2 linked regions of the Homo sapiens genome follow. Each later gene encodes a partner of the first gene's protein in a complex. Each region holds a gene or a part of one and is shown on either strand. Other genes may lie near its edges. The genes, in order: LRP5 and FZD8.

Region 1 (15,224 bases):
GGCTGCCTTGTGGTGGCATGTGCTGCTCACTGACACCCTCGAGGAGTGTCTTCTCTCGGGCTTGTTGACTGTGCCCGGTTTTCCGCAGTTCACTGGTGCACACATAGGCACATAGCAAACCGCACACACAGTCGTGGGTATGAGTTTCACTACATTCCACCACCAGTGTTCACTACCATTACCTGCCTTCCGTCTTAAGTGTTCATCATTTAAAAATAAATTTATTGGGCTGGACACGGTGGCTCATGACTGTTATCCCAGCACTTTGGGAGGCTGAGGCGGGCAGATCACCTGAGGTCAGGAGTTCAAGACCAGCCTGGCCAATATGGTGAAACTCCATCTCTACTAAAAATACAAAATTAGCCGGGCATGGTGGGGCATGCCTATAATCCCAGCTACTTGGGAGGCTGAGAGAGGAGAATCGCTTGAACTTGGGAGGTGGAAGTTTCAAGTGAGCTCATTTTGTGCCACTGCACTCCAGCCTGGGCAACAAGAGCGAAACTCCATCTCGAATGAATGAATGAATGAATGAATGAATGGCAGGGCGTAGTGGCTCACACCTGTAATCCCAGCACTTTGGGAGGCCAAGGCGGGCGGATGACAAGGTCAGGAGATCGAGACCATCCTGGCTAACACGGTGAAACCCGTCTCTACTAAAAATACAAAAAATGAGCCAGGCGTGGTGACGGGCGCCTGTAGTCCCAGCTACTCAGGAGGCTGAGGCAGGAGAATGGCGTGAACCCGAGAGGCAGAGCTTACAGTGAGCCCAGATAGCACCACTGCAGTCCAGCGTGGGCAACAGTGCGAGACTCCATCTCAAAAAAAAAATAAATAAATAAAAGAAAAATAAATTTATGATCTATTTCAAAAATAACACATGTACTTTGAAACAGCAGAGACACATATGACACGGAGAATGAAATTCCCCATAGCGCACCCCCAAGAGACAGCCCTGGTCCCCCCGTCTTTCCCGTGGACCTCCAGCGGGGCAGATGCTGAGCCGCCTGTTGTCGAGTGGCGTGCTATCCCGTCCTCCAGCTCCTCTGTGGCTTACAGACACCCACCTGCAGCCCTGTCTTTGCCTCCTCTAGCGCCCACCACCTTCTTGCTGTTCAGCCAGAAATCTGCCATCAGTCGGATGATCCCGGACGACCAGCACAGCCCGGATCTCATCCTGCCCCTGCATGGACTGAGGAACGTCAAAGCCATCGACTATGACCCACTGGACAAGTTCATCTACTGGGTGGATGGGCGCCAGAACATCAAGCGAGCCAAGGACGACGGGACCCAGGCAGGTGCCCTGTGGGAAGGGTGCGGGGTGTGCTTCCCAAGGCGCTCCTCTTGCTGGTTTCCAGGCTGCTGCCCCTGTCCTTAGCAGAGGGAGGAAACAGAGGATGGCTCTGGGTGAATGATGACTTGGGCTTCGATTATGTAGTCACAGGGTATGACCCTGAGATGCGTGGAACCCCGAGACTGTGATTATATGTAGAAACTGGGTTTCCCCGTTGTTTAAGTAGTCATGGTGGGGTCAGACCCCACAGGACTTTTGTCTTTTCAAGAAAGAAAATGGTCGTGTGTCATGCAGGGGTAGTTGGTACTGGTTAATCCAGGTTTATCCTTTATTTTGTGGGAACTGTACAGTCATTTCTGCTACAATGCTGTATATGCTCTTCTGAAAGACACCTATGCAAAATCGCACAGTAAAAATGACACAACTCATAGGGAAAGCGGGGCCAGGGCACAGCCCTCAAAATCTCCATCAATGACATGTAAGAAAAGAGAGGAACCTGGGAAATAGCAAAGTGCCTTTTGCACATTAAATGGTTAGCTATATCCCACAATACTGTGCATTCGTAAACGTTAATGCTGCAATAAATACGGCACTTCACCTTGGGAAGATCTGGAGTTGGCTTATGAGTGTGGAAGGGTGTAGCGCATGAGTTTTTGTGAAACACTGGAAGGAGGATTGTGGGAAATCAAATGGAAAGTTCTCACCCCAGGCGTGGAGAAGAGTGGGTCATGGCCCCAGCAGTGAGCCCAGGGAGGTCAGAGACGGAGGTGTGTGTGTGGGTGTGACCCTGCGCAGTTCCCTGCCGGCTGTAGTTTTTTGCATTCACTTAATGTTTCTCGTGGAGGAAATTGTGCATGAGCAAATGTGAAACCGTGCTGTGCTCAAATTGTCCTAATACATCATTGCATTGGAACAGATTGGCTTTTTTTTTTTTTTTTTTTTTTTTTTTTTTGAGATGGAGTCTCACTCTGTCACCAGCCTGGAGTGCAGTGGCATGATCTTGGCTCACTGCAACCTTTGCCTCCTATGTTCAAGTGATTTTCCTGCCTCAGCCTCCTGAGTAACTGGGATTACAGGCATGAGCCACCGCGGCCGGCCAGATTTGCATTTTTGAAACAACTGCTAGGCTGGGCGCGGTGGCTCACACCTGTAATCCCAGCACTGTGGGAGGCCGAGGCAGGTGGATCACCTGAGGTCAGGGGTTCGAGACCAGCCTGGCCAACATGGTGAAACCCCGTCTCTACTGAATATACAAAAATCAGCTGGGTGTGGTGGCGGGTGCCTGTAATCCCAGCTACTCAGGAGGCTGAGGCAGGAGAATTGCTTGAACCCAGGAGGCAGAGGTTGCGGTGAGCCGAGATCACACCATTGCACTCCAGCCTGGGCAACAAGAGCAAAACTCCATCTCAAAAAATAAAAAATAGAAAAACAAGTGCTGTAGCGGAAGTGAGCACTTTGCGGAGTCAGGCTTGTGTGGCCTGTTCCACAAATGATGTGCTCACGGCGGCCTCAGGCCCACCTGGAGTCTGCAGCATGGGGCACAACAGGTTCATTAGTGTAGAATTCCAGGACAGGCCTGGCTCCTAAGCAGCCTTCTTTTACAAAAACTGCAGAGCCCGCTTGTATCCTAGCACTTTGGGAGGCCGAAGTGGGTGGATCACGAGGTCAGGAGTTCAAGACCAGCCTGGCCAACATGGTGAAACCCCATCTCTACTAAATATACGAAAATTAGCTGGGTGTGGTGGCACGCGCCTGTAGTCCCAGCTACTCGGGAGGCTGAGGCAGAATTGCTTGAACCTGGGAGGTGGAGGTTGCAGGGATCTGAGACCATGTCATTGCACTCCAGCCTGGGCAACAGAGCGAGACGCCATCTCAAAAAAAAAAAACCTACAGAGCCACACGGCCTCTTTCTCCACCGAGTGTTGGTGTGGGAGCTTGTGTTATTGTGGTGAAATCTTGGTACTTTCTTGAGGCAGAGAGAGGCTGAGCGCCTGGAGAGACTTTCACATGGGTCGCCATGTCCGCCGTCGGTTTCGCTGTTGTGCTCCCCATCTGAAGGCTGGTGCCGTCCAGACAGGCTGGACGCCCCTTTCCACCAGATCCTTCCTCCCGCAGCAGTTTCTAGTTACGTTGTACTGTGAGGTCTGTGTCCTTGGTTGATGGCAAAAGTCAGCCGAATTGAAATTCAGAGCCATGCCTGGCTCCCTGGAGCTTCTCTCCTGGGCAGCTGTGATCATTGCCTCTGCTGTGGTGTGGGTGGTGGAAATGGATTCCTTTCATCTTGCTTGCTACAGGTGACTGTCACGTGGAGTCCTTTGGAGAGAGGGACGTGTTAATTGATGGATGTGGCTCCCATGCTGAGAAAGCTCCTGGGCGTACATTGCCTTAGAGTTTCACTGGAGCTGCGTTCTTTTATGGTGTCTGCTAGGCAGAAGTGATGAAGACTTGGAAGAAAACCCAGAAGGTTTTCCACTTAATTTGGAAAATGTGCTTTTCCCCTCCTGTGTCTTTTGCTAAGGTCCAGCCTCCTGCAGCCTCCCCGCTCTGTGGACTCTGGCTTTGATTCTTTATTAGGAGTCCCCCTGCTCCCCCAAAAGATGGTGTCTAAATTATCATCCAATTGGCCGAGGTTTTGTTTTCTATTAATTGTTTTTATTTTTTATTGTGGTAAATATATATAACATAAAATTTGCCATTTTAATTGTTTTGTTATTGTTGTTTTTGAGACAGGGTCTCACCCCAGTGCCCAGGCTGGAGTGCAGTGGTGCGATCATGGCTCACTGCAGCCTCAGCCTCCAGGGCTCCAGTGATCCTCTCACCTCAGCCTCTCTAGTAGCCGGGACTACAGGCATACACTACCACATCTGGCTGATTTTTTGTATTTTTTTTTTATTGTAGAGACCCGCTATGTTGCCCAGGCTGGTCTCAACTCCTGGACTCAAGCCATCCTCCCACCTCACCCTCCCAAAGTGCTGGGATTACAGGCATGAGCCACAACACCCAGCCATTTTAATTTTTTTTTTTTTTTTTGAGATGGAGTCTCACTCTATCGCCCAGGCTGGAGTGCAGTGGCGTGGTATCAACTCACTGCAACCTCTGCCTCCCAGGTTCAAGCGACTCTCCTGCCTCAGCCTCCTCCCGAGTAGCTGGGATTACAGGTGCCCATCACTATGCCTGGCTAATTTTTGTATTTTTTAGCAGAGACGGGGTTTCACCATGTTGGCCAGGCTGGTCTTGAACTCCTAACCTGGTGATCCGCCCGCCTCGGCCTCCCAAAATGCTGAGATTACAGGTGTGAGCCACCGTGCCCGGCCTTTTTTTGTTTTTGAGACAGGGTCTTGCCCTGTCACCCAGACTGGAGTGCAATGGTGGGCTCTTGGCTCACTGCAGCCTCCGCCTCCCAGGCTCAAGTTGTGCACCTCCACACCTGGCTAACTGTATTTTATGTAGAGACAGATTTCACCATGTTGCCCAGGCTGGGCTTGAAATGGACTCAAGCAGTCCACCCACCTCAGCCTCCCAAAGTGCTGAGATTACAGGCGCGAGCCACCGCACCCAGCCCATTTTACCTATTCTGCAGTTGACAGTTCAGTGGCATTCAGTCAGTTCACGAGGTAACCATCACTGCCATTCATCTCCAGACTACTTCACCTTCTCGGCAGATGTCCGAAACTGTCCGCATTGAACACACTCCTCATCTCCCTCTGACAGCCACCATTCTACTTTGTATCTCTCTCTGCCTTCTCTAGGTACCTCATGTAAGTGGAATTATACCAATATTTGCCCTTGTGTGACTGGCTTCTTTCATGTGACATGGTGTCCTCAAGGTTCATCTGTGTTATAGCCTGTGTCAGAATTTCCTTCCTTAAAGCCTGAATAATAACCCGTTGTAAAGGCTGGGCGCGGTGGCTCACACCCTCTAATCCCAGCATTTTGGGAGTCCGAGGTGGGCAGATCACTTGAGGTCAGGAGTTTGAGACCAGCCTGGCCAACATAGTGAAACCCTGGCTCTACTAAAAGTACAAAATTAGCTGGGTGTGGTGGCGCGCACCTGTAATCCCAGTTACTCAGGAGGCTGAGGCAGGAGAATCGCTTGTACCCGGGAGGCAGAGGTTGCAGTGAACCAAGATTGTGCCTCTGCAGTCCAGCCTGGGTAACAGAGTGAGACTTCCTGTCTCAAAAAAAAAAAAAATCATCGGATGGATGGACGGACCACTTCTTGTTATTTATCCATCCACGGGTGCTAGGTTTCTTCCACCTTTGGTTGTCGTGAATAAGGCCACTATGAACATTTCCTTCCGTGGTGAAGGTTTTGTACTAGTGAGGAAAAGGCGTGTTTGTGGTGTTGCATAGGATTCTGGTAAGAAAGTTTGCACTAACCATAAGTATTTGTACTACATTAAAATGAAAGCTCAGGGGCCGGGCGCGGTGGCTCACGCCTGTAATCCCAGCACTTTGGGAGGCCAGGGCGGGCGGATCATGAGGTCAGGAGATCAAGACCATCCTGGCCAACATGGTGAAACCCCGTCTCTACTAAAAATACCAAAAAACTAGCCAGGTGTGGTGGCGGGCACCTGTAGTCCCAGCTACTTGGGAGGCTGAGGCAGGAGAATGGCGTGAACCCGGGAGGCGGAGCTTGCGGTGAGCCGAGATCGCTTCACTGCACTCGAGCCTGGGCAACAGAGCAAGACTCCGTCTCACGCAAAACTCTGTCTCACGCAAGACTCCGTCTCAAAAAAAAAAAGAGTTCAGGGTTTATGAAACTGGCCAGCCGCGTAAAGTTTGCTGTGTTGTTTTTGTGCCCGGGAGGAGTGTGGCCAGGGTGTCACGTCACACAGTACACGTTTCTCAGATGGTGGTTCTCCAGACTGCTGTCCCAAAGTCTGTTTTTGCATCTGGTTCCCACAGACCCACCCTCCACGGTGAGCCTGATTTTGGCCAGGGTAGCTGGAATCTTGCTTGTCTTTCAGCCCGGCAGCTGTACCAGTCCAGGGTCCACAGCTAGTGGCTTTTAGGAAGGAATTTGTTCAGTTGGCTTTGACACATGGCCCCCTAGGGTCCACAGCTCTGTAGTGATGTGGATGTTGTTATCTACAAAGACACATGATCCTTCGTGTCCAGATGAAAGTGATGATGTCTTTGCAGCTGCCCAGCAAGGCTGTGTGTGTGTGTGTGTGTGTGTGTGTGTGTGTGTGTGGTGTGTGTGTGGTGTGTGTGTGTGTATGGGGGAGGGAGGCACCCTTTCCATCTGGGGGTGTGTGTGTGTGGGGTGTGTGTGTGTGTGTGCGCGTGTGTGTGGTGTGTGGTGTGTGTGTGTGTATGGGGGAGGCACCCTTTCCATCTGGGTCCAAGAGACTGGGCCTGGGGAAGACGCTTCTTTTTATCTACTTAGAGACTTTGTTTTATTTGTATTTTTTTGAGACAGGGTCTCACTCTGTCACCCAGGCTGGGGTATGGTGATATGAGCATAGCTCACTGCAGCCTCGGCCTCCCAGGCTGAAGCGATCCTCCCACCTCAGCCTTCTGAATAGCTGGGACTGTAGGCGTGCGTCACCATACTGAGCTATTGTTTTTTTTGTTTGGTTGGTTTAATTTTTTTTGATACAGATGGAGTCTTGCTATGTTGCCCAGACTAGTCTCAAACTCCTGAACTCAAGTGATTCTCCCACCTCAGTTTCCCGACATTCTGGGATCACAGGTGTGAGCCACTGCTGTCTCCCTGTTTTATTAACTGCTGAAAGACCTAGATAAAGAAAGTCTGAAAAGACTTACTATCAGAGCACCATCCTAAGATGATTCCCTCTGACTCAATGGAGAGGGAGGGGAGCTTTTCCTTCAGGCCTGGGTGGCAGGAGCCCAGGTGCTCCAGGCCCCATTTGCCCCAGGCCAAATCACTCGGGAACTTGGATGCAGCTGTCTTTCAGGGTAACCCAAAGGAACCAGATCCCCGCAGGCAGTAGGCTTCTGGGCTGTCCTCTCCTCCTACGTCAGCTCAGTAAGAGCCCTTCGAAGGGATGCTGTGTCGGAGGCCCCAAAAGCCCAGGCTCATCCCTGAGATGCACAGGGTGGGCTGGGCTTAGGCAGCGCTCGAGCATCTCCTGGACGGTGACCCCAGAGAGTGTGGAGACGGAGAGTCCTTGAGAGTCACTGAGAGACGTGGCTGCCCTGCCTTCCCAAGAGGGGCTCTGAGTCATTCCCCACACTCACCTGCCCCTACCCACCCTCACCTGGCCCCCAGCCTCACCTACCCCCACATCTGTACCGATCCCTTTACCCGCACCTTCCCTACCCACCCTCACCTCCCCTGTACCTTCACCTCCCCCACTCACCCGCCCCTGCACCCTCACCTGTCCCCCACCTTCACCTAACCCCCACCCTCACCTGCCCTCCCCTCACCTGGCCTCCTTCCGTTGGGGAAGGGGTTGTAAGGGGCGGCCCCCAAACTGTCTGTCCTGGTGCCCTGCAGAGAAAACAGTACGTGAGGGCCGCAGTCCAAAAGCTTGAGTCCTGGAAGGTGGAGGAGACAGGGATGTGTTGGGAAGGGCCCCATGGTCTTGGATCCCTTCTCGACTGTCAATGGGGCCTTCATGGGAGCGCCAGTCTAGTGATGCACAGCTGGGTGCCCGGCGGGTGGCTGAGGAGGCCTAAAGTCCGAGGCGGCAAGAGCTCTTCCAGAGGCTGTTGTCCTAATCGCTCTGGCATACTCAGGCGGGCACGTAGTTAGGAGCTGATTGGAGAGGAGAGACCCCCACACCAATACTGGGATTTGACTTTCAGGCTAAACTTGAGAAGTGTGGCCTCTGCTGTCCTGCCAGAGCTCTCCAGCCAGTGCCCAGGGCTCTCCAGCCAGTGCCCGGGGGTCTCCACCAGTGCCCGGGGGTCTCCGCCAGTGCCAGGGGTCTCCGCCAGTGCCCAGGGGTCTCCGCCAGTGCTCAGGAGTCTTGGTTTCTTTGTCTTACAGCCCTTTGTTTTGACCTCTCTGAGCCAAGGCCAAAACCCAGACAGGCAGCCCCACGACCTCAGCATCGACATCTACAGCCGGACACTGTTCTGGACGTGCGAGGCCACCAATACCATCAACGTCCACAGGCTGAGCGGGGAAGCCATGGGGGTGGTGCTGCGTGGGGACCGCGACAAGCCCAGGGCCATCGTCGTCAACGCGGAGCGAGGGTAGGAGGCCAACGGGTGGGTGGGGGTGCTGCCCGTCCAGGCGTGCCCGCCGTGTCTTCTGCCGAATGCCAGCCTCTCACAGGCTGGGGAGACTTTCCACCCTGGGGATCCAATGGGTGGCTTTCCAGGGTCCCAAAAGCAAACACAGGCTCTTTCACAGCCCCTCCAGGAAAGCAGAAAGCCCCAAGGGCTGGAAGGGAAGGGGGAGCTCTGCTGAGAGGTTACAAGGCAGCGCTGGCCGACGGGAGTTGCAGTTGATAGGTTTTGTATCATCCTTGTTAAACTTGAACCCTGTGCAGAAATCCCTTCCACGGCATGGGGGCTGCCTGTTGACTCGCTCCTGTTCCACCACAGGGAGCTCCTGGGCTTCTTCCTCCCAGAGGCCCCCGACGCTCCCACCTGTTGGTCGTCAGAGCTTCTGGTTGGTGGGAAGGCACCCAGGACCTTGAGGTCTCCAGAGAGAAAAGCCAGGGAAAGAGGGAGACCGAAACCCATGTGACATGAAACTCAGGCTCCAAACTGAGCACGGGAACGTTTGGGGACAGGAGCGCGATGGCCTTCCTCAGATAGCTGGGGGGCTGGCATGAAGACGGGAGCTACAGCCAGCACAGGTCCTGGGCCGGGAGCCCAGAGATTGAGCCCTGACTCTGTCACTTACTGGCCACGTGACCTTGGGCGGGTGGCATAGCCTCTTGGAGACTCAGTTTCCTCATTGGTAGGAGTGACGGCCACAGTGGTGCGGCCTCTGCAGCACACGGGGGGCTCGGTGGGCGGAAGCCCCGGGTCTATAAGGCGGCTGTGCAGGAGCCAGCCGAGCTGGTCTCCCAACAGCCAGGGCTCCGGGGTCCTTAGCAGCTGTGGGGGGCCTGCACCTGTTTCCCATGGCTGCTGTCAGAAATTACCAGAAGCCAGGTGGCTGAGAGTAATGGACACTTGTTCTCTCACAGTTCCTGAGGGCTGAAGCCCGAGATCGAGGTGTGGGCAGGGCCCTGCGCCCTCTGAAGGCTCTGAGGGAACCTTTGGGCTTCTGGTGGCTCCAGGCACCCCTTGACTTGTGGTCCTGTCACTCCAGTCTCTCTGTCTGGCTGCACATGGCGTGGCCTCTTCTGTACCATTGAAGGACACTTCAGTTGGATTTAGGGCCTACCCTCACCCATTGTGGTCGTATCTTGATCCTTCATGACATTTGTAAAGACCCTGCTTCCAAATAAGCTCACATTCTGAGGTTCTGGGGTGAGCGGGAATTTGGAGAGCATTGTTCAACTAGTATAGAATGTGACCTGTCAGCCTCGGGCAGCCCTGAGAGGCAGGGGCTTTCCACAGCCCAGCTGGGTGCCCTGGGCTCCGTGCTGTCCGAGGAGACGCCATCCCCACACCCGTCCTTCACCCGCCACCCTCCCGCAGGTACCTGTACTTCACCAACATGCAGGACCGGGCAGCCAAGATCGAACGCGCAGCCCTGGACGGCACCGAGCGCGAGGTCCTCTTCACCACCGGCCTCATCCGCCCTGTGGCCCTGGTGGTGGACAACACACTGGGCAAGCTGTTCTGGGTGGACGCGGACCTGAAGCGCATTGAGAGCTGTGACCTGTCAGGTACGCGCCCCGGGGCCTGCCCTAACCGCAGACACCCGGCCTTCATTGTCAGTAATGGCAGCAGCTGCCACATTGTCCGAGACCTGCCGTGAGCCCAGTGCCGCGCCAGGGGCTTTGTGTGTAGCGTGTTTTGTCCTCACACTGACAGCTGTAGGCTGGGGTTCTGAGTGAGCCCCACAGGGCAGAGGCAGAAAATGAGTCTCAGAGAGGGTGAGCGAGCTGCTTGGGGCCCCACAGCAGGAGATGGAGCAGGACTGCAGCCTAGCCTCTGCCCCCAGCACCTGCGCAAGAAGCTGCTCTGCTCTGGACTGTGTTAGGCTGCGAGGGCTGGAGAGAAATGAGAGTTGGTGCTTAGAGAGGGGGCGCAGGTCCCCATGGCTTTTCCTCTTATGATGAGGTAGATGGGTGAAGGGAGGGGCCATGCTTGCAGGGGCCAGTGACCGAGGCCCGCCGTTGGAACTGATGGCCTTCATCCCGAGCCCAGCCCAGGTGGGAGCAGGGCTTTCCGAGGGCTTGTCTTGGGTCGGCCTGCTTCCAGGGACTCTGCTGCAGCTCCCACCCCTGTCCAAAGCATGGAATCCCCCAGGCTCCCTGGCAGTCCTGTCAACCTCTGTCCTCCCAAGCTGAGTGTGGGGCAAGTTCTGGAGGTCAGCACTGCTCAGGGGGGCCCACGGGCTGCTTGCAGGGGCCAACCGCCTGACCCTGGAGGACGCCAACATCGTGCAGCCTCTGGGCCTGACCATCCTTGGCAAGCATCTCTACTGGATCGACCGCCAGCAGCAGATGATCGAGCGTGTGGAGAAGACCACCGGGGACAAGCGGACTCGCATCCAGGGCCGTGTCGCCCACCTCACTGGCATCCATGCAGTGGAGGAAGTCAGCCTGGAGGAGTTCTGTACGTGGGGGCTGGCAGTGGGGTGGGCAGGGTGGCCTCTAAACCCGACCCCTGGAGGAGGCTGGAGGCCAGTGCAAGATCCTGTGTGGCCTCAGCCAGGCGGTGGTCTCTGCCAGATGCCAACTGTTGCCCGCTGGGGTTCAGCGACATGTCCGAATGTCCCGAGGCCTCTGAGGTTGTTTTCTTTTGCCGCAGAACAAATCACCACGAACAGCGTTTTAAGACAACACCAACTCTTTTTTTTTTTTTTTTTTTGAGTCAGGATCTTGCTCTGTTGCCCAGGCTGGGGTGCCCTGGTGCAAACACAGTTCACTGCAGCCTCGACCTCTGGGCTTAATTAAGTGAACACCTTGCCTCAGCCTCCCAGGTAGCTGGGACTACAGGTGGGCACCACCACACCTGGCTAATTTTTTTTTGTAGAGACGGGGTTTCCCCATGTTGCCCAGGCTGGTCTGCAACTCCTGGGCACAAGCTATCTGCCTGCTGTGGCCTCCCAAAGTGCTAGGATTATAGGTGTGAGCCACTGGCCTGACAACACCCACGGATTGTCTCTCAGTTCTGTAAGGCAAAGTCCAGGCACAGCGTGGCTCACCTGGGTTCTCTGCTCAGGGTCTCACGGGGCCAGAATCAAGGTGTCAGGAACGCTGGGCCCTCAGCGGAGGCTCTGTGGAGAAATTAGCTTCCTTGCTCACTCAGCAGGTAGCAGTTGTGGGATCGAGGTTCTGTTTTCTCTCTGGTTATTGGTCGGGGACCACTCTCAGCTCCTAGAGGCCACCACAGGTCCTTGCCCCGTGGCCCTCTCTGCCTCAGCAGTGGGGGCTCCCTGCGTCAGTCCCTCCCACACCTTGAGTCTCTCTGATTTGCTTCTAAAGGGCCCTGTGATTCGGCTCAGCCACCTTTAGATTAGGTTAGCCTCCCCTTTGATAGACTCCAAGTCGGCTGATTAATAACCTTAATCACATCTGCAGAATCCCTTCTGCCACATAAGGTCATGACGCCGTGCTGGGGACTGGGGTGGGAAATTACGGGGTCATTTAGGATTCTGCCTGCCACTGCCTTGCTGTGTCCCAGGGCTTGGGGGAGGGGCCTCCACAGCTGGGACCACAGTCCTTCCTCCCCTCCATGGTAACCATCTGAGGATTACTTGAGACCAGCCTGGGCAACATGGTGAGAACCCATCCCTACAAAAAATACAAACAAAAAGGGACCAGGCTGGGCTTGGTGGCTCATGCCTATAATCCCAGCACTTTGGGAGACCAAGGTGGGCTGATCACTTGAGGTTGGGAGTTCGAGACCAGCCTGCCCAACATAGTGAAATCCCGTCTCTACTAAAAATACAAAAATTAGCTGGGTGTGGTGGCAGGCGCCTGTATTCCCAGCTACTGGGGAGGCTGAGGTGGGAGAATTACTTGAACCTGGGAGGCGGAAGTTGCAGTGAGCCAAAATTACGCCACTGCACTCCAGCCTAGGCAATAGAGTGAGACTCCGTCTCAAAAAAAAAAAAGGGCCAGGGGTGGTAGTGACAAAGAGACCCTATCCCAAAAAAACCGAACACTGAATCCTTGAGACTGAGTAAGGACACTGTGAAATTTTTCTGGGTGGGGCAGGGAACAGAGCGTCTTCTGTCATTTCTTCCACCTGGGTGTGGTCAGCTCTCCCTCCAAGCTGCCTCCTCTTCTTCTCATTGTCCGGGTGTTGGACACATTTGGTTAACTGGATAGAATAACGCGAGTTCCCAGGGACTTGGTCCATTTGCTATTTTATTTTATTTTATTTTATTTTATTTTTTTTATTTATTTATTTATTTATTTATTTATTTATTGAGATGGAGTTTCGTTTTTGTCGCCCAGGCTGGAGTGCAGTGGCGCGATCTCGGTTCACTGCAACCTCTGCCTCCCAGGTTCAAGTGATTCTCCTACCTCAGCCTTCCAAGTAACTGGGATTACAGGCACCCACCACCATACCAGGCTAATTTTTTTGTATTTTTAGTAGAGACGGGTTTTCGCCATTTTGCCCAGGCTGGTCTTCAACTCCTAGCCTCAGGTGATCCACGCACCTCGGCCTCCCAAAGTGCTGGGATTACAGGCATGAGCCACCACGCCTGGCACCATTTGCTATTTTAATTCCCATGTGTATTAGTGTCCCACGGCTGCTGTAACAAATGACCACAAACTGGATGGCTTAAAGCAACAGAAATGGATTCCCCCAATGTGCTGGAGACCAGAAGCCTGCGACCAAACTGTTGGGAGGGCTGTGCTTCCTCTGGGGGCTCCAGGGAGGATCTATTTGTTGGCCCTTCCAGTGCTGTGGGTGCCAGCGTTCCACACTTGTGGATGCGCCGCCTCAACCTCTGCCCATCTTCATGTGTCCATCTCCTTTGTGTCTGCGTCTTTACCTCTTCTTCTTGTCTGTGTTGCCTCTTATAAGGACGTTTGTCATTGGGTTTAGGGCCCACCCAAATCATCCGAGATGACCTCGTCTTGAGATCCTTAACCTGCAAAGACCCTTTTTCCAAAAAAAGGTTATGCTCACAGATTCTAGGCCTTAAGACATGGGTGTATCTTTCTGGGGGGCACTATCCAACCCCTTATACAATGAAAGACGGGAAGAGGGCCAGGTGTGGTAGTTCACGCCTGTAATCTCAGCACTTTAGGAAGCTGAAGCGGGAGGATCACTTGAGCCCAGGAGTTTACAAGTAGCTAGGCAACATGATGAGACCCCATTTCTACAAAAAGTGAAAAAAAAAAAAAAAAAAAAAAATTAGCCAGGCACAGTGGCAGGTGCCTATTGTCCCAGCTACTTGGGAGGCTAAGGCAGGAGAATGGCATGAACCCGGGAGGTGGAGTTTGCAGTGAGCCGAGATCATGCCACTGCGCTCCAGCCTGGGCGATAGAGCAAGACTCTGTCTCAAAAAAAAAAGCCAGGCATGGTGGTGCATGCCTGTAGTCCCAGCTACTCAAGAGGCTGAGGCAGGAGGGTTGTTCGACCCACGGAGATCAAGGCTACAGTGAGCCATGATCGCACCACTGCCCTCCAGCCTGGGTGACAGAGTGTGACCCTGTCTCAAAGTAAGTAAATAGGAGGAGAGACAAGTGGGCAGTTCAGACTGATGGTATGGGCACAGTAGAGACTGGTGCAGACAGGCTGGCCTGTGATGTCAAGCAACTTCTGTAATTGTTTCCGGCATCCATTTGTGTGTCAATTTCCGTGTCAGTAGGAAGACTCTGTAGGCTGCCAAGAGGAATAAGTGGGAGGATCCTCCCAGAGAGGCCGGGCCTGCAGGAGGGCCAGTTCTCATGAGTTCTCATTTGGCCCCTACCCTCCAGGCTGTGGTTCTGAGGTGGGAGACAGAGCCTGACCTCTGTTTGTCTTGTTTTGTCTTTGCAGCAGCCCACCCATGTGCCCGTGACAATGGTGGCTGCTCCCACATCTGTATTGCCAAGGGTGATGGGACACCACGGTGCTCATGCCCAGTCCACCTCGTGCTCCTGCAGAACCTGCTGACCTGTGGAGGTAGGTGTGACCTAGGTGCTCCTTTGGGGTGATGGACAGGTACCTGATTCTCTGCCTGCTAGGCTGCTGCCTGGCATCCTTTTAAAATCACAGTCCCTGTGGCATCCAGTTTCCAAAGCTGATTGTGTCTTCCTTTGCCCTCCTTTCTTTTCTACTATGTGCATTCGGTGCTATGAATTTTCCTCTAAGTACTGCGTTTCCTGCATCTCACAAATTTTGTTACATTTTCATTTTCAGGTAGTTTGAATATTTTTACACTTCTCCTGAGATGACATCTTTGGCTCATGTGTTATTTAGAAGTGTTGCTTAGTTTCTAAAGAGTTGGGGCTTTTCCAGCTGTCTCTCTGCAACTGATTTCTAATTTAATTCTACTGTAGTCTGAGAGCTTATTTTATATGATTTCTGTTATTTTAAATGTGTTGGGTGTGGTGTTTTTGTTGTTATTGTTTTTGTGTCTTTTTGTTTTGTTTTGCTTCGTTTGTTTTGTTTTTGAGACAGTGTCTTGCTCTGTCACTCAGGCTGGAGTGCAATGGCGCGATCTCAGCTCACCGCAACCTCTGCCTCCCGGGTTCAAGTGATCCTCTTGCCTCAGCCTCCTGAGTAGCTGGGATTACAGGTGCACGCCACCATACCCAGCTAATTTTTGTATTTTTAGTAGAGACGGGGTTTCACCATGTTGGTCAGGCTGGTCTCGAACTCCTGACCTCGTGATCCGCCCACCTCGGCCTCCCAAAGTGCTGGGATTATAGGCGTGAGCCAC
Region 2 (15,641 bases), on another chromosome or scaffold:
AAAAGAAACTCCTGAACATGTCTACATAGGTATATAATAAAAAATATTCAACACTAAGTGTACTCATGAAAATGTGGAAGTGATCACACTATTCATTAGTAGTAGAGTAGATTATATAAAGTGTGGCTTATTCTTACAATGGAATACTACAATCAGTTAAACATTTTCAACCAGATCAATATTAAGCAAACTTTTGAGTTTATAAAGCTATTTATAATCAGAACTTAAACATAGATATTTTATGTGTTTATAAGTTATAGTTTTTTGCAAGATTTTGTTTGGAAAAGAGAGTTCCACTTTTCCACAATGTTTAAAAACTGTGATATAATAAGTGGCCATGGAATTAGCTTCATCTGTAAAACATAACCCTTAAAACCTATCTTGGCCAGGCGCAGTGGCTCACACCTGTAATCCCAGCACTTTGGGAGGCCAAGGTGGGCAGATCACCTGAGGTCAGAAGTTCAAGACCAGCCTGACCAACATGGAGCAACCCCGTCTCTACTAAAAATACAAAATTAGTCGGGCGTCGTGGCACATGCCTGTAATCCCAGCTACTCGGGAGGCTGAGGCAGAAGAATTGCTTGAACCCAGGAGGCGGAGGTTGTGGTGAGCCGAGATTGCCCCATTGCACTCCGGCTTGGGCAACAAGAGCAAAACTCCGTCTGAAAAACAAAGCAAAATACAAAAAACCTATCTTGCATACCTGTCATAAGGCTTAGACATTGTAAATACATAGAGATGGAAACAGAGATCAAGGTAGATAAAGTGATACAGTCATGGGGCAGATTGTTATTGTCTACCCAAATCCACCTCCACTTCCCTTCTTTTCTTTTTTTCTTTTATTTGTTTATTTATTTCTTTATTTCTGATAGGGTATTGCTCTGTTGCCCAGGCTGGAGTGCAGTGGCACAATCACAACTCACTGTAGCCTTAAACTCCTGAACCCAAGGGATCCTCCGGCCTCAGCCTCCTGAGTAACTGGGACTACAGACATACACCACCATACCTGGATAATTATTTTTACTTTTTGCAGAGAGAGAGTCTCATTATGTTGCCCAGGCTGGTCCCAAACTCCTGGCCTCAAGCGCTCCTCCTGCTTCAAGCCTCCCAAAGCACTAGGACCACAAGGGTGAGCCACCACAACTGGCCCCTTTTTTATTTCTTATAACCCTTAATTTTATTCAGGTATTCACCCTCCTCCACATGGTTAGGTACTTCAGAGAAAGATGAACTAATTCCCAGCTCCAAGCATAGGGTAACCTGACTTAAGCCCATTGTGGTCATCCCATTCTTCCTGCCCATGATTAGTTTAGGGATGAGAATTCAAACTGATTCTACCAATGAAAGCTGCCAGGAGACTGCTGGGAAGAGGCCAAAATCCTGCCACCATCTTTTGACTTTGAGGTCACCATGGGTAAAACCCCTGAGGGGGACAGGGCAGAGAAACAGAAGGAACCTGAATCCTTGATGACGTTTTTGAAAATCTGTATCTATCAACCTGGAAAACTGCCCTACTTTTGTAAGATGACAATTTGTTTTGTAAGATGACAATTTCCATCCTGCATGAGCCAGTTTGAGTTGGATTAACTGTTATTTGTTGCTGAAACATCCTACATTATTTAAAAAGAAAGAAAAAGAAAAAGAAAAGAAAAGGGAGCAGGGGGCCAGCCCAGAGCCTAGCGCATAAAAGACCTGCTGTCATCCATGGCAGCTGAGATCATTATTCTATGCCACCTCCACTCATCCAGTCTCCTCTCTTGCCATCCTCCAATACATTAACAATATAACGCAGATCAAACTACTTTCCATCCTCATTCTGGTCACTCTTATTCTTAAGCAAAGCAACTATTCCCTATAGTTACCATTAGCATATATTCCAAACTTCATTTTTTCTAAGTACAGTTTTTATTGCTGACTTGGGAGATTTAGGAACAAGGGTGATATTCACCAGTCTGCAATTATGAATTATAGGTTAGGATTCACTCGGTTTAGTTATACCTACATTTTTACTCTAATAAAAAAAAATCAGGATGTACAATTCCAATAGATTACCTTCCAGCAGAAACCTTGGGTATTTGATTACCACAAGACAACCAAACTCCAGTAGAATCCTAATAGAAAATGAATCCTTTCAGATTTTTGACAGGTAAAACATCAGGTGAAGTTTTCTGTCCTTTTATTTTCAGATTGGAGGACAAGACCAAGAAGTTAACAAAATTAAGAGACAATGCCACAGCACATATACAGATAGACATCTTTTTCTGAATAGGAATCCAGAGACCACATGGATCACAGTGGAAAACATAATGAAGCCGGGTGCAGTAGCTCACGCCTGTAATCCCAGCACTTTAAGAGGCCAAGGCAGGCGGATCACTTGAGGCTGGGAGTTCAAGAAGAACCTGGGCAATGTAGTGAGACTCTGTCTCTAAAAAAAATTTAAAATAAATAAAAATAAATTTTAATTACCCAGGTGTGGTGGCATGCACCTGTAGTCCCAGCTACTCATAAAGCTGAAGTGGGAGGATCTCTGAGCCCAAAGTTTGAAGCTGCAGTGAGCTATGATCACACCACTGCACTCCAGCCTGGGCAACAGAGCAAGACCCTGAAGACCTATCTCTTGAAAGGAAGGAAGGAAGGAAGGAAGGAAGGAAGGAAGGAAGGAAGGAAGGAAGGAAGGAGGAAGGGAGGGAGGGAGGGAGGGAGGGAGAGAAAGAAGGAAGGAAGGAAGGAAATGATTAATAATCAGCAGCGTGATAGACCAACAAGTAAAAATATGAATCCTTCCTTTTTAGCCCCCAAGGTAGCAGGACATCCTATCACCAACTTAATCAAGGAAAATATCCTTCACCATGAGCAATGTTGCTTGCTAAGGCAGAGACTCTCGAATGAGGGTGAAAGCAGGAGTGTAATTGTAAGGCTGGGCACGGTGGCTCACGCCTGTAATATCAGCACTTTGGGAGGCTGAGGTGGGCAAATCACCTGAGGTCAGGAGTTTTAAACGAGCTGGACAACATGGCAAAACCCCATCTCTACTAAAAATACAAAAATTAGCTGGGCCTGGTGGTGGGTGCCTGTAATCCCAGCTACTCGGGAGGCTGAGGCAGGAGAATCATTTGAATCCTGGAGGCGGAGGTTGCAGTGAGCCAACATCATGCCACTGCACTCCAGCCTGGGTGACAGAGTGAGACTCCATCTTGAAAATAAATATATAGCCAGGAAGGTGAATCTGGTTCAGCTTGGGTAGCATAGGGGAATCCCCTGGTAGAAAATCCTGTAGTAACAAGTCCAGCAATCACATTCTACCAAAAGCTTGTAGGGAAGACTTAGTAAGCCAGGAGCTTCCCAAACGAGCACCTACCAAAAAAAGACAATTACCATGTTCAAAACAGAAATGACGCTCGAACAAATGGCTCCACATACCTCCAATATCTTCCAGAGAACAGAGAATGATGCAAAAATAAGATCATGTACAGAAAATAAGATGGATACTGCTGGAGGAAATATAAAGAACCAATAAACTGTAGAACTTTCAAAAGGGCATAGTTCTGTAGAAACTGATTTGTTTAGGGACATTAGCTGCAAAGAACTGGATATACCCACAGACTGAGACACCACCTGGTCCCCCTGAATTCTATGTTCTCTGTAGGTTCTTGGAAGCTGTTATTTACTCAACCCTCTGAGGTTCTGGAAAACATACAGGTGAGAAATAAATTTTCATCTCTGGCAGTCCTTATGCTTCCTAGCTGTTTAGTAAGGTGTTCCTGCATGTAATTACCCCACAGGGAGTTTGTGGGGAGACAAGGACATGAGCAAACATACAAACCACCCAGCTCGTTCTGCTAGACAGAGTCATTCTTTAACCTGGCCTCGTCTAGAGGCCCTGCAGGCAACTGGATTTCTTAAAGCGGGAAAGTACTCTTAAGCAAAGCAAGTTGTTCTGTAAGCAAAGCAAGTTGTTCTGGTGAAATAAATAACTAGAATCTTATTAGCAGATCCCACCTGCATGAAGTTATGGGGAAAAGAGGAGGAGAAAGGACTTAAGTTTTGTTGTTAATTAACACACGAAGAGCATATGAACCTGCTTCAATGACCACTAGGCTATAAAGCATCTGACCTTGGACAGCAGAAGTTAGTTAGACACAAAGAGATGGGGGCCTCTTGTCATGTGGTGCAACAGTCCCTAGGGTTTGGGGCAGACACCCTTGGTGACCTACCCAAGGCGACCCTACCCTTCTTCCTTACTAGCAAAACCCCGATTCTGTCCAAGTGACCCCTCGTGGTCAGGTCAGGCAGGGCTCAGTGATGTGACTTGTCACCCAATTCTGAACCATGAGAAATAAGAGAAAATCAGTTCCGGGAAAGCCTTCTTGGCACTGAAAATGAGGCACGAGAAGAAGAATGTCCCTCTTTGTGCCTCTGAACATTGGCATGTGAAGATGTGAGCTTCAGTCTGTAACCACTCTGTAATCATGAGGGCAACAAACCAACCTATCAGGCTGACAGAGAAAAAGATGGAAAGAACCCATCTTGATAACTTGTGGAGTCAGAGAATTAGCCAACTTCGAAGCCAGCCCACCTTCAGGTCTCGGGTAATGCAAGGTAAATATCTTTTCAGGCTTCCTGTTACTCCAAGTTGAAAAGATTGTAATAGATACTGAGCTCTATAGACTCCAAATGTAACCTATTTAAAGGTATGAATTATATCAACAGATTGAATACAAATAAAAATATTTCTGTCCAAGGAAAACTCTTGCTGTTGCATTAACAGCAAAGGCAGAGGCAATTTCCTACCATTGTGATTTGTCAGTGCTTTCTCGTGTGCCTAGAATTCTGCTCCTCTTCTCAAATAAACTTCTGATCATTCTTCAAAATTCCTGTGAAGTCCTTTCTTAGCTCTGTTAGGGACATTCACATGTTCCCTAATACTATTTCCGTGTACCATGTAAATATCTACTGAACAGCACTGGACTCATTCACCTGTGACTGTCCCATGTGAGTTTCCTGTAGAAGACGTAATGTCTTACTCATCTTCACATCCTTGCACTTAACAAAGGGCCTGGGACTCGGTTAGTGTGGCAGTTTTTAAATATGATCCCCAAATATTTGGCATTTCTTCCATTTTGTGGTAGGTCCATGCCCCTGCCTTTGAATCTGAGTGTGCTCATACCATCAGAGTGGGGCGGAAGTGATGCTGTGTGACTCTGAGGAGATGTCATATAAAGGGGCATGCAGTATTCACCTGGTTCTCTTAGGATGCTCGCTCTGGGGAGTGCCCCACCCCCCCAACCCCCTACTGCCATGTAAGAAGTCCAACCACTCTGAAGCTGCCATGCTGGAAAGGTCACGTGGGTGGCTCCAGGGGACGGTCAGCATCAACAGGCCACCACAGGAGTCCCCCCCAGCTTGGTTGTTTAGCCCCCTCAAGCCTTCAAATGACCCTAGTCCTGTGGACAGCTGAGTTCAATGGCAGGACAGGCACCAAGCAAGAGACCTGCCCAGTCAAGCCTTTCCTAAATTCCTGACTCTCAAAATTAGGAACAAAATAAAATGGTTGCCTTGAGCCACCATGTTTTGGGATCACTGCTGTACAGCAACAGGAACCAGAACAGTTGGTACTAAGTAAATATTTATTGACTTTACTTTGAACTCATTCTAAACTAGAATTTTTCAAACTGTAACTTGCCAGACAGTGTTTTAAGACAGCAGGCCCAGAGTTCATATTTATGTTGTGATACTATTTCAGTAAGCTGAACATATTAATGCATCATTTTTTTCTTTTATCTATATGGTATCATTTTACTACAAATTATACTTCTGTATACTATAAGCTTATCCCTATAGAAGTACATTTGCTTCTAAGAGCAACCAAGACTCATACAAAAAAAAACAAACAAAAAACAAATGCTGTCACCTCTAGAAAAAAAAAAATGCTGTGTTTACCTGAATCCAGTCAAAGATAGACTAAAATAGAAAGAAATGCCTTTGTCATCCCTACCATCTCCATGTCCTGAGTGCCCTAATAATTATAATTTGCATTACTGATGGAAAATTTTATCAGTAAATGGTGGTTTCAGACCACCATTTAAAATGGATCATTGTTACCAGACATAAACCCTTGCCTGGACCAATTTTTTGATATAAAGCTTCCTGCACATTCATAAGCAGTTCAGTTGGAATTCAAAAATTTCCCTTGCATTATATTTAAATTAGTCAATACAAAAAAAAAGTTATTCAGAGCATGATGTAGGCTTATTTTAAAAATAATAAAAACTTTTGAAAAATGAAAACAAACAGGCCAGGCCTGGTGGCTCACTCCTGTAATCCCAGCACTTTGGGAGGCCGAGGCAGGCAGATCACTTGAGGTTAGGAGTTGAAGACCAGCCTGGCCAACATAGTGAAACCCTGGCTCTACTAAAAATACAAAAATAAGCCGATCATGGTGGTGAGCACCTGTAATCCCAGCTACTGAGGAGGCTGAGGCAAGAAAATCGCTTGAACCTGGGAGCTGGAGGTTGCAGTGAGCCAAGATCACACCATTACACTCCAGCCTAGGCAACAGAGTGAGACTCCATCCAGGCAAAAAAAAAAAAAAATGAAAACAAACGAACAAAAAAGTTATATGGACAAACTAACAAAATGTTTCATGGATAGGCTTAAAAGAAACACAGAAACTAAAACTCCAGAATTGCATCAATGTTTTTTGTTTGTTTTTGAGATGAGGAGTCTCACTCTCTCACTCTTCTGGCCCAGGGTGGAGTGCAGTGGCATGATCTCGGCTCACTGCAACCTCTGCCTCCCAGGTTGAAGTGATTCTCCTGCCTCAGCCTCCCGACTAGCTGTGATTACAGGCACCCACCACCACGTGCAGCTCATTTTTGTATTTTCGGTAGACATGGGGTTTCACCATGTTGGCCAGGCTGGTCTCGAACTCCTGACCTCAGGTGATCCACCCACCTTGGCTTCCCAAAGTGCTGGGATGGCAGGCGTCAGCCACCGTGCCCAGCCTGTGTCAATGTTTTTAGTTAAGTCTCCAAATGGGAGGGGGAGTTCTGAAGAAAAAGGAAATAGGGAGTGAGTTCCACTACAGTGAATGCACACTGCAAATAAAATGCGCTGTAAACTGCTTGACGTTTATTTCATACTAAATGTACAAAGAACTGTATTGTGTGAACTTCAAAAAAAAAATGTAGATCTCAAGGTTTTCTTGGATCTAGATCATGCTTAATTTATAACCCTGCATAAATTCCGCTGTAAGACCAGGGAAGTTGACTCAATGGTATTGCTTGGAAGTTCACTGCTTTCACACAGTAATGTGCATCTGACACTGTGGGTTGTCCCTCCTCCCCTTCCTGGCTACCAGTGTCCCCATCAACAGCCACTCTCCAGATCCTCACTTTCACAGCCTCTCTTGCAGCTAAGAGTGGCCAAGTGACAGATTCAGACCAGGTTGCCCAAAGGGGAAGTTAGCCAAGGGCCTTCAGGGAAAGGCTGTCATTCCTAAGGGAAGAAAAATATCATAGCAGTCCTCCAGCCCTGGCCACAGTCCAATGTGACAATTCAGTGGTGGGAGGCCCCCTGTAACCAAAGGGGAAACCAACAGTCTAGAAGCCAACCTGCAGCCCTAACCTCCTGGAGCTGCAGAAAGAACTGACGGTGAAATGTCTGCTTCTAGACTTATTGATATGTTGAGATGTCCTTCTTGGCTAAGCCACTTTTACCCGGGAGGTCTTTACTGGACCTGAAATCTACCAAACTAATGCACAATGCATGCCATAATAAGAGCTTCAATATCTGGCAAATATTCCCATGTGGATGAGAAAAAAAATCAATTATTGATTTTTAAAACAAATTTTAGAATAATTATCAACTTAAATAATGGCAGTGCGGTCGCCGTATTCCAAAGCAGCAGCTGCATGTAAAGTGAGCATGGGCCTGCCAGCCAGTGGCACAGGTGGGCCTGTTATCTCCATCCATGTGCACCTTGGCCTGGTGACAGCAGACACAGCAAAGAGTACTTCCTTCCAACAGGATCTCTTTCCTGGCAGTGGAGAGAACAGAAGCAGCAGCACTTCAATTGAGTTTCATGTTAATAAGGAAGAATATAAAAATAATCTCACCTGTTTAAAGCTAGCAGAGATTGATGAGGCCAGTTCACCTCTACCTCCCCTTCCATTTATGGACTGAGAGACTCAAGACATAACCCTTTGAAAGGCAGATTTTTAAAACACCAAGATGCCCCAATATTACCATTAGAGGTTTTGTTATTGTTGTTGTGGGTTTTGTCTTTTTTTTTTTTTTTTTTTTTTTTTTGAGACAGGGTCTCTTTCTATTACCTAACCTGGAGTACAGGCATGATCACGGCTCACTACAGCCTCAAACTCATGGACTCAAGCGATCCTCCCACCTCAGCGCCTCAAGTAGCTGGGACCACAGGTGCGTGCTACAGGCCCGACTAATTTTTTTTTTTGTTTTAGACAGACTCTTACTGTGTTGCCCAGGTTGGAGTGCAGTGGCAAAATCTCAGCTCACTGCAACCTCTGCCTCCCAGGTTCAAGCAATTCTCTTGCCTGAGTCTCCCAAGTAGCTGGGATTACAGGCACCCACCACCATGTCCAGCTAATTTTTGTATTTTTGGCAGAGACAAGGATTCCCCATGTTAGCCAGGCTGGTCTCGAACTCCTGACCTCTAGTGATCCTCTGACCTCGGCTTCCCAAAGTGCTAGGATTACAGGCGTGAACAACCACCGTGCCTGGCCTTGTTTTTTTGTTGTTTTTTTTGTTGTTGTTGTTGTTTTGTTTTTGGTTTTTTTTTTTTTGGTAGACTCGGGTCTTACTATGTTGCTCAGACTGCTCTCCAACTCCTGGCCTCAAGCGATCCTTCCACCTTGGCCTCCCAAAGCACTAAGACAAACGTAAGCCACTGAGCCCAGCCAGTGATAAGAATTTTATATTATCTAATAATATAGTACTTAACTGTTTTCTTGAGAGAAAATAATATTTGGCATTTATTTATTTAGAGACAGGGTCTTACTCTGTTGCCCAGGCTGGAGTGCAGTGATACAGTCATGGCTCACTGCAGCCCCAGCCTCCAAAACTCAAGTGATCCTCCCACCTCAGCCTCTGGTGTAGCTGGGACTACAGGCACATGCCACCGCACCCAGCTCATGTTTGTATTTTTTGTAGAGACAGGGTTTTGCTATGTTGCCCAGGCTGGTCTCGAACTCCTAGACTCAAGCGATCTGCCTGCCTCAGCGTCCCAAAGTGCTGGGATTACAGGCATGAGTCACCGTATCTGGCCAATATTTGGCAGTTTATAACACCTGAGAAATTGTATTAGTTACCAAAGAGTTCCTCATTTAATCTTTGGAACGTATCATTCTGTTAGTATATGCCAGGCTCTCTCTTCCATCCAGATTCTTATATTGGATTTTTAGATGGTAATCCACTGGAACATGATTTCCCCAAAGTTTCTTAAATTTGTTACAGACAGTATTGATAGTCCCCTGTCTAACTCGGTAGCCAACGTTTTGTAAAACCTTCCCTCCTCTGAGGTAGATTCCTGATTCCAACTGTTTACATTATTTGCTTGCAGGCCATTCAGCAACAAGCCATCTGCTCAGAAATCCCTTTAGAAACTTCCCTACATTATTTATGTCACTACTAAAGCTATTTCCCCTCCCCTAAAAAACAGCTGCTTTACATACAATGAAAATATCATTATTTAGCCATAGAAGTTGATATATGTTCTGGTTACTTCTAGGTAACCCATCATTACCTTTTACGCACTAATTGGCTACAGAAGTCTCTCCCTTCTCTGAAAGACTACCAAGTAGCCGTTTAATTTAACAGTAGATGTAAAATGCGATTCTTATATTCTCTCAATTAAAAGTACATTTGTCATGACTTTTATGTAACTGGTTTTAACCTCACAAATCACTAAGATCTCCCAAATAGCTGATATGATTTTTGAAATTCTGAACTTCAGTCTGCTTATTTTCTCATGCAAACTTAACATACTTACCCAAAATTTCCACATTCCACATCATCAAACTTTTCATCTTGTCTCAAAAGAAAAAAGAAAAAAAATTTAAAGCCAATTAAGAGCCAAAATCAACCATTTTCAGCTTCAATTTCAATTTTCAAATGTCAGTTTGTTTTTACCCAATTCTAGCAAATTTATGTAGTGTAATTCTAAACTTCACTATTTGACATTTCCCCGTGGAAGAAAAGCAACAGAAACTTTTCACCATCTGTGTTGCTCTTGGAAACCAGCCCCTCCCATCTGTGGTGCGGGCAGTGCAGCACCCTTGCTGGTCTTTGGGGCTCTGCCTGCACCGCTGCCCTCAGATCAGCACTGGAACCTCTGGCAATTACCTGCAGCTGATGCGTTCTGGAGACTCGCCCTCTGGAAACAAGGTGCCAACCGCAGAGATAGTGAATTTCTACATTCAACATACAAGTGGGAATTCCGATTTGCAGGAGGTGAGAAAAGAAAAAAAATTTTTTAATCAAGTAAAGGTCTAGTCTGTATTTTTGAATAGCCCGTTTTCTGCTGAATCAGCTAATATTTCTGAAGCCTTTGAATTCCGAATTCCTACGGACTTTAGTTTTTCCAAAACAAAAGTGGGAAGGAAGTGTTGTTTTTCAGTATAAAGAGGTTCAACTCTATAGACTAAAACTAAAAAAGTTAAAAAGATAGGGGGGTATAACTATAGATTGGTGGATATGCCTAGAACACAGAACTTGCCAAAAACGGGGCGCTGGGGCAGGGTGCGGTCTGACAGTCTACTTGTAATATGTTTCATAATGAGGTTGCTAACTGAGCTACAGAAAGCAGGAGGAGGAAGACATAGATGCCATCAGCTCAAGCAATCTACAAATACTGCTGGTTATTTTTGTTTTATGACAAGAGTTGTTTCTGAACGGACAACCACGAGCTACCACCACCACCAGCAGCGCCCCGAAAACCGGAACTGGCCTCAAATGTACTTTTAATTCTTTTGCTCTGTCCCCACGCCCTCTGCAACTTTTGTTCTCCAACTGTACTTGTTCCGGTATGAAACCTGGCAAATAGCAAAAATCTTGAAACAAGAAGAGAGTGAGAGAGCGGAGAGAAAAGGGAGGGAAGGAAGGAGAGGGAGGAGGGGAAGAGGAGGAGGGGGGAGAGAAAGTGGTGGGGGAGAGAGAGAAGGAAAGGAGGTGGGGAGAGAGAGAGAGGGAAGACAGAAGAGAGGCAGGGAGGAAGAGGGAGAGAGGGGGACGGAGATGGGGAGGAGGCGGGAGGGAGGGAGAGAAAGAGAGAGAGAAACATATTCTGCCACCCTCCTGGCTAACTGAAATGCTTGTTCCCGAGATTACAGTAATTACTGCCCCAGCATGAGTTCCATACAAGCGCTAAATGAAACAGCACATCAATTAAAAAATAAACACTCCATTCTAGGAGAAAGACAGCCCCCTGGGACGCCCTAACAAGCGTAAATGAACCTGCCAGGCCGCCGGCCCGGGCCGCCCGCAGCCCCCCTCCCGGCCCGTCTTAAGGTGGCGGCGGAGCCGGCGGGGGCAGCGTTCGCTGGCGGTGGCCCAAGCGGCTGCTAAAAGCAGCCCGGGTCCGGCTCCGGCCTCGTGCAGAGAGCAGATACGTGTCGCGGAGTCCACGCCAGAGCGCAGCGCCGCCTCCCACCAGAGAAAAGGAGGCTCTGGCAAAAGCCTGTGAACTTGGGATGGATGAATAGACGTCCTGAAAGAACGAAGGGAAGACAGGGAATCCAGCCCCAGAGTTTCCAGCCTGTCCTATTTATAAGTTTCGAGGTTTGTTTTGAATTTTAGAAAGAAATTGAATGATTTTTCCTAAGAAAGCACGGCGGCTCGGGGCTTCCTATATTTTATCTCACCTAATTATCAAAGCCCCCTTGGAGATCTGTGCTATGATCACCCAACTCTCTAGGTGGGGAAACTGAGGCTCCCCCAGGTCACGCAGCGGAGGCGGGAGGAGAGTCTCTGGCGGGCATTTGTCCCCCGCGCCCCTCGCGCGCCCAAGGCTGGGCTCCGGGGCATCTCACCCGGGCCGTCCCGGGTCCAGCCCCAGTTTAGAATGACTCCACACCCCCCACATCTCCAAGTCTCAGAAACCATCGTTCTGAGAACCCCAAGGAGGACACCCTTTCCCGGGTCTTCTGCAGCGCCGAGCCCCGGCAGGCCTCCCCGGCGCTCGCCTGCTGCGAGACCTTCCTGCCGCCCCGAGGAGCACGAGACCCCAGCCGCCTGCAGATCACCCACATTTGCGGAGGGTGGCAGCAGGGGCTTGGCTGGTTTGAAACGCGCCGGGGAGGCGCGCGCTGCACCAAACCCCGTCCCTGTCCCCAAGGGCAGACTCGGGGTAAGGGGACCAAGACCTCCGACGCACTCAGCGCCATGGGGACAGCCATGGCCAACACTCTGTCTCTGCGGTCAATCCCAAGGTTACCAAAACTCTCCATCCGCAGAGAGCGCGCACAGCAGTGCGGACACTCGGGGACTGCCTTAAGGAAGGCTGAGCCCTGGGAGCGCGTGGACTCCGCCCTACCGCCCGGCGATTGGCTCGCGGGGCTGGGGGCGGAGACCGAGTCCGCGCTGTATAAATATTCATGAGCCGGCAGCGCGGCGCGAGCGGGGCTGGAGCCGGGAAGTTGGGCTAAGGGCGCTGCTCCCGCCGAGGAGGAGGCGGCGGCTGGGCGCGGGCCGCGCCACTCAGGTGTCCGCTCCGCCTTCCGGTCTGGATTTGCTCCTGGGTGTCCAGCAGGAAGGAGACTGTGTGCACCTCGCCCGACTGCGGCCGGAGCGCGGCGCTGACTTTTCCAGGCGGCGGGGGTCCGTCTGTCCCGGCGGCGGACGGACGAAGGACGGACGCCGGAGAAAGAGGGCGGCGGCCTGGGCCGAGGCGGGTCCCCAACTCCGGCGGCGGCGGCGGCGGCTTGGCCTTGGGGGCGGGCATGAGCCCCCGGGGGCCGAGTGGTGGCCGCCAGGGCTGACCCGGCGCGGCAAGCGGCCCGGCCCAGCCATCTTGACTGCGCACCGCGGCCCCAGAGGAAACTTGCGGCGCCTCCGCCCTCTCTGTCCGGCGGAGTCACCGCCGCCCGGCGCGGCGGGGAGAAGTGGTCGGGCGCGCGGAGAGGAGGCGAGCGAGCGCGGGACGATGAGCCGAGGCCCGGCCGCTCTGCGCCGCGAGGGCTGAGCGCGACCCGGGGCCAGCAGAGCGGACCTACGGACTGTGGCGCGCGCCTGCAGCCGCCTTCAAACCCCCGGAGCGGCGGAAAGGAGTGCGGAAGGGCCCTGCCCAGGCTGCGGGCCGCGCCGCTGCGGACGCGCCCCTAGAAGGGGTTAGATTATCGGCAGACCCCCCTCCCGGGCGAAGCATAAGGGAGACCCCAGATCACCCGCTGTACCCGTCTGCGGCTCTCTCGTGGGCCCCCCCCCCGGCACCCCTCTGCGCGCCGCCTGGAGGGCGAGGGCACCGGGCCGAGGCGCACAGCATGGAGTGGGGTTACCTGTTGGAAGTGACCTCGCTGCTGGCCGCCTTGGCGCTGCTGCAGCGCTCTAGCGGCGCTGCGGCCGCCTCGGCCAAGGAGCTGGCATGCCAAGAGATCACCGTGCCGCTGTGTAAGGGCATCGGCTACAACTACACCTACATGCCCAATCAGTTCAACCACGACACGCAAGACGAGGCGGGCCTGGAGGTGCACCAGTTCTGGCCGCTGGTGGAGATCCAGTGCTCGCCCGATCTCAAGTTCTTCCTGTGCAGCATGTACACGCCCATCTGCCTAGAGGACTACAAGAAGCCGCTGCCGCCCTGCCGCTCGGTGTGCGAGCGCGCCAAGGCCGGCTGCGCGCCGCTCATGCGCCAGTACGGCTTCGCCTGGCCCGACCGCATGCGCTGCGACCGGCTGCCCGAGCAAGGCAACCCTGACACGCTGTGCATGGACTACAACCGCACCGACCTAACCACCGCCGCGCCCAGCCCGCCGCGCCGCCTGCCGCCGCCGCCGCCCGGCGAGCAGCCGCCTTCGGGCAGCGGCCACGGCCGCCCGCCGGGGGCCAGGCCCCCGCACCGCGGCGGCGGCAGGGGCGGTGGCGGCGGGGACGCGGCGGCGCCCCCAGCTCGCGGCGGCGGCGGTGGCGGGAAGGCGCGGCCCCCTGGCGGCGGCGCGGCTCCCTGCGAGCCCGGGTGCCAGTGCCGCGCGCCTATGGTGAGCGTGTCCAGCGAGCGCCACCCGCTCTACAACCGCGTCAAGACAGGCCAGATCGCTAACTGCGCGCTGCCCTGCCACAACCCCTTTTTCAGCCAGGACGAGCGCGCCTTCACCGTCTTCTGGATCGGCCTGTGGTCGGTGCTCTGCTTCGTGTCCACCTTCGCCACCGTCTCCACCTTCCTTATCGACATGGAGCGCTTCAAGTACCCGGAGCGGCCCATTATCTTCCTCTCGGCCTGCTACCTCTTCGTGTCGGTGGGCTACCTAGTGCGCCTGGTGGCGGGCCACGAGAAGGTGGCGTGCAGCGGTGGCGCGCCGGGCGCGGGGGGCGCTGGGGGCGCGGGCGGCGCGGCGGCGGGCGCGGGCGCGGCGGGCGCGGGCGCGGGCGGCCCGGGCGGGCGCGGCGAGTACGAGGAGCTGGGCGCGGTGGAGCAGCACGTGCGCTACGAGACCACCGGCCCCGCGCTGTGCACCGTGGTCTTCTTGCTGGTCTACTTCTTCGGCATGGCCAGCTCCATCTGGTGGGTGATCTTGTCGCTCACATGGTTCCTGGCGGCCGGTATGAAGTGGGGCAACGAAGCCATCGCCGGCTACTCGCAGTACTTCCACCTGGCCGCGTGGCTTGTGCCCAGCGTCAAGTCCATCGCGGTGCTGGCGCTCAGCTCGGTGGACGGCGACCCGGTGGCGGGCATCTGCTACGTGGGCAACCAGAGCCTGGACAACCTGCGCGGCTTCGTGCTGGCGCCGCTGGTCATCTACCTCTTCATCGGCACCATGTTCCTGCTGGCCGGCTTCGTGTCCCTCTTCCGCATCCGCTCGGTCATCAAGCAACAGGACGGCCCCACCAAGACGCACAAGCTGGAGAAGCTGATGATCCGCCTGGGCCTGTTCACCGTGCTCTACACCGTGCCCGCCGCGGTGGTGGTCGCCTGCCTCTTCTACGAGCAGCACAACCGCCCGCGCTGGGAGGCCACGCACAACTGCCCGTGCCTGCGGGACCTGCAGCCCGACCAGGCACGCAGGCCCGACTACGCCGTCTTCATGCTCAAGTACTTCATGTGCCTAGTGGTGGGCATCACCTCGGGCGTGTGGGTCTGGTCCGGCAAGACGCTGGAGTCCTGGCGCTCCCTGTGCACCCGCTGCTGCTGGGCCAGCAAGGGCGCCGCGGTGGGCGGGGGCGCGGGCGCCACGGCCGCGGGGGGTGGCGGCGGGCCGGGGGGCGGCGGCGGCGGGGGACCCGGCGGCGGCGGGGGGCCGGGCGGCGGCGGGGGCTCCCTCTACAGCGACGTCAGCACTGGCCTGACGTGGCGGTCGGGCACGGCGAGCTCCGTGTCTTATCCAAAGCAGATGCCATTGTCCCAGGTCTGAGCGGAGGGGAGGGGGCGCCCAGGAGGGGTGGGGAGGGGGGCGAGGAGA

The links.
Region 2: LRP5 (region 1) and FZD8 share a complex: the UniProt entries of both Homo sapiens proteins name them as parts of the wnt-signaling complex.

Annotation. Positions count from the first base shown.
Region 1 is NC_000011.10:68,415,237-68,430,460, forward strand, and holds part of LRP5 (low-density lipoprotein receptor-related protein 5 isoform 1 precursor), read left to right. Parts: intron 1-1,091; coding exon 1,092-1,291; intron 1,292-8,252; coding exon 8,253-8,461; intron 8,462-9,865; coding exon 9,866-10,056; intron 10,057-10,741; coding exon 10,742-10,951; intron 10,952-14,338; coding exon 14,339-14,464; intron 14,465-15,224. UniProt on the Homo sapiens protein: Acts as a coreceptor with members of the frizzled family of seven-transmembrane spanning receptors to transduce signal by Wnt proteins.
Region 2 is NC_000010.11:35,639,297-35,654,937, reverse strand, and holds the start of FZD8 (frizzled-8 precursor), read left to right. Parts: upstream 1-13,210; 5' UTR 13,211-13,508; coding exon 13,509-15,593; 3' UTR 15,594-15,641. Other genes in the region: zinc finger protein 469-like, read left to right, coding at 12,092-12,308, 12,525-13,210. UniProt on the Homo sapiens protein: Receptor for Wnt proteins. Component of the Wnt-Fzd-LRP5-LRP6 complex that triggers beta-catenin signaling through inducing aggregation of receptor-ligand complexes into ribosome-sized signalosomes.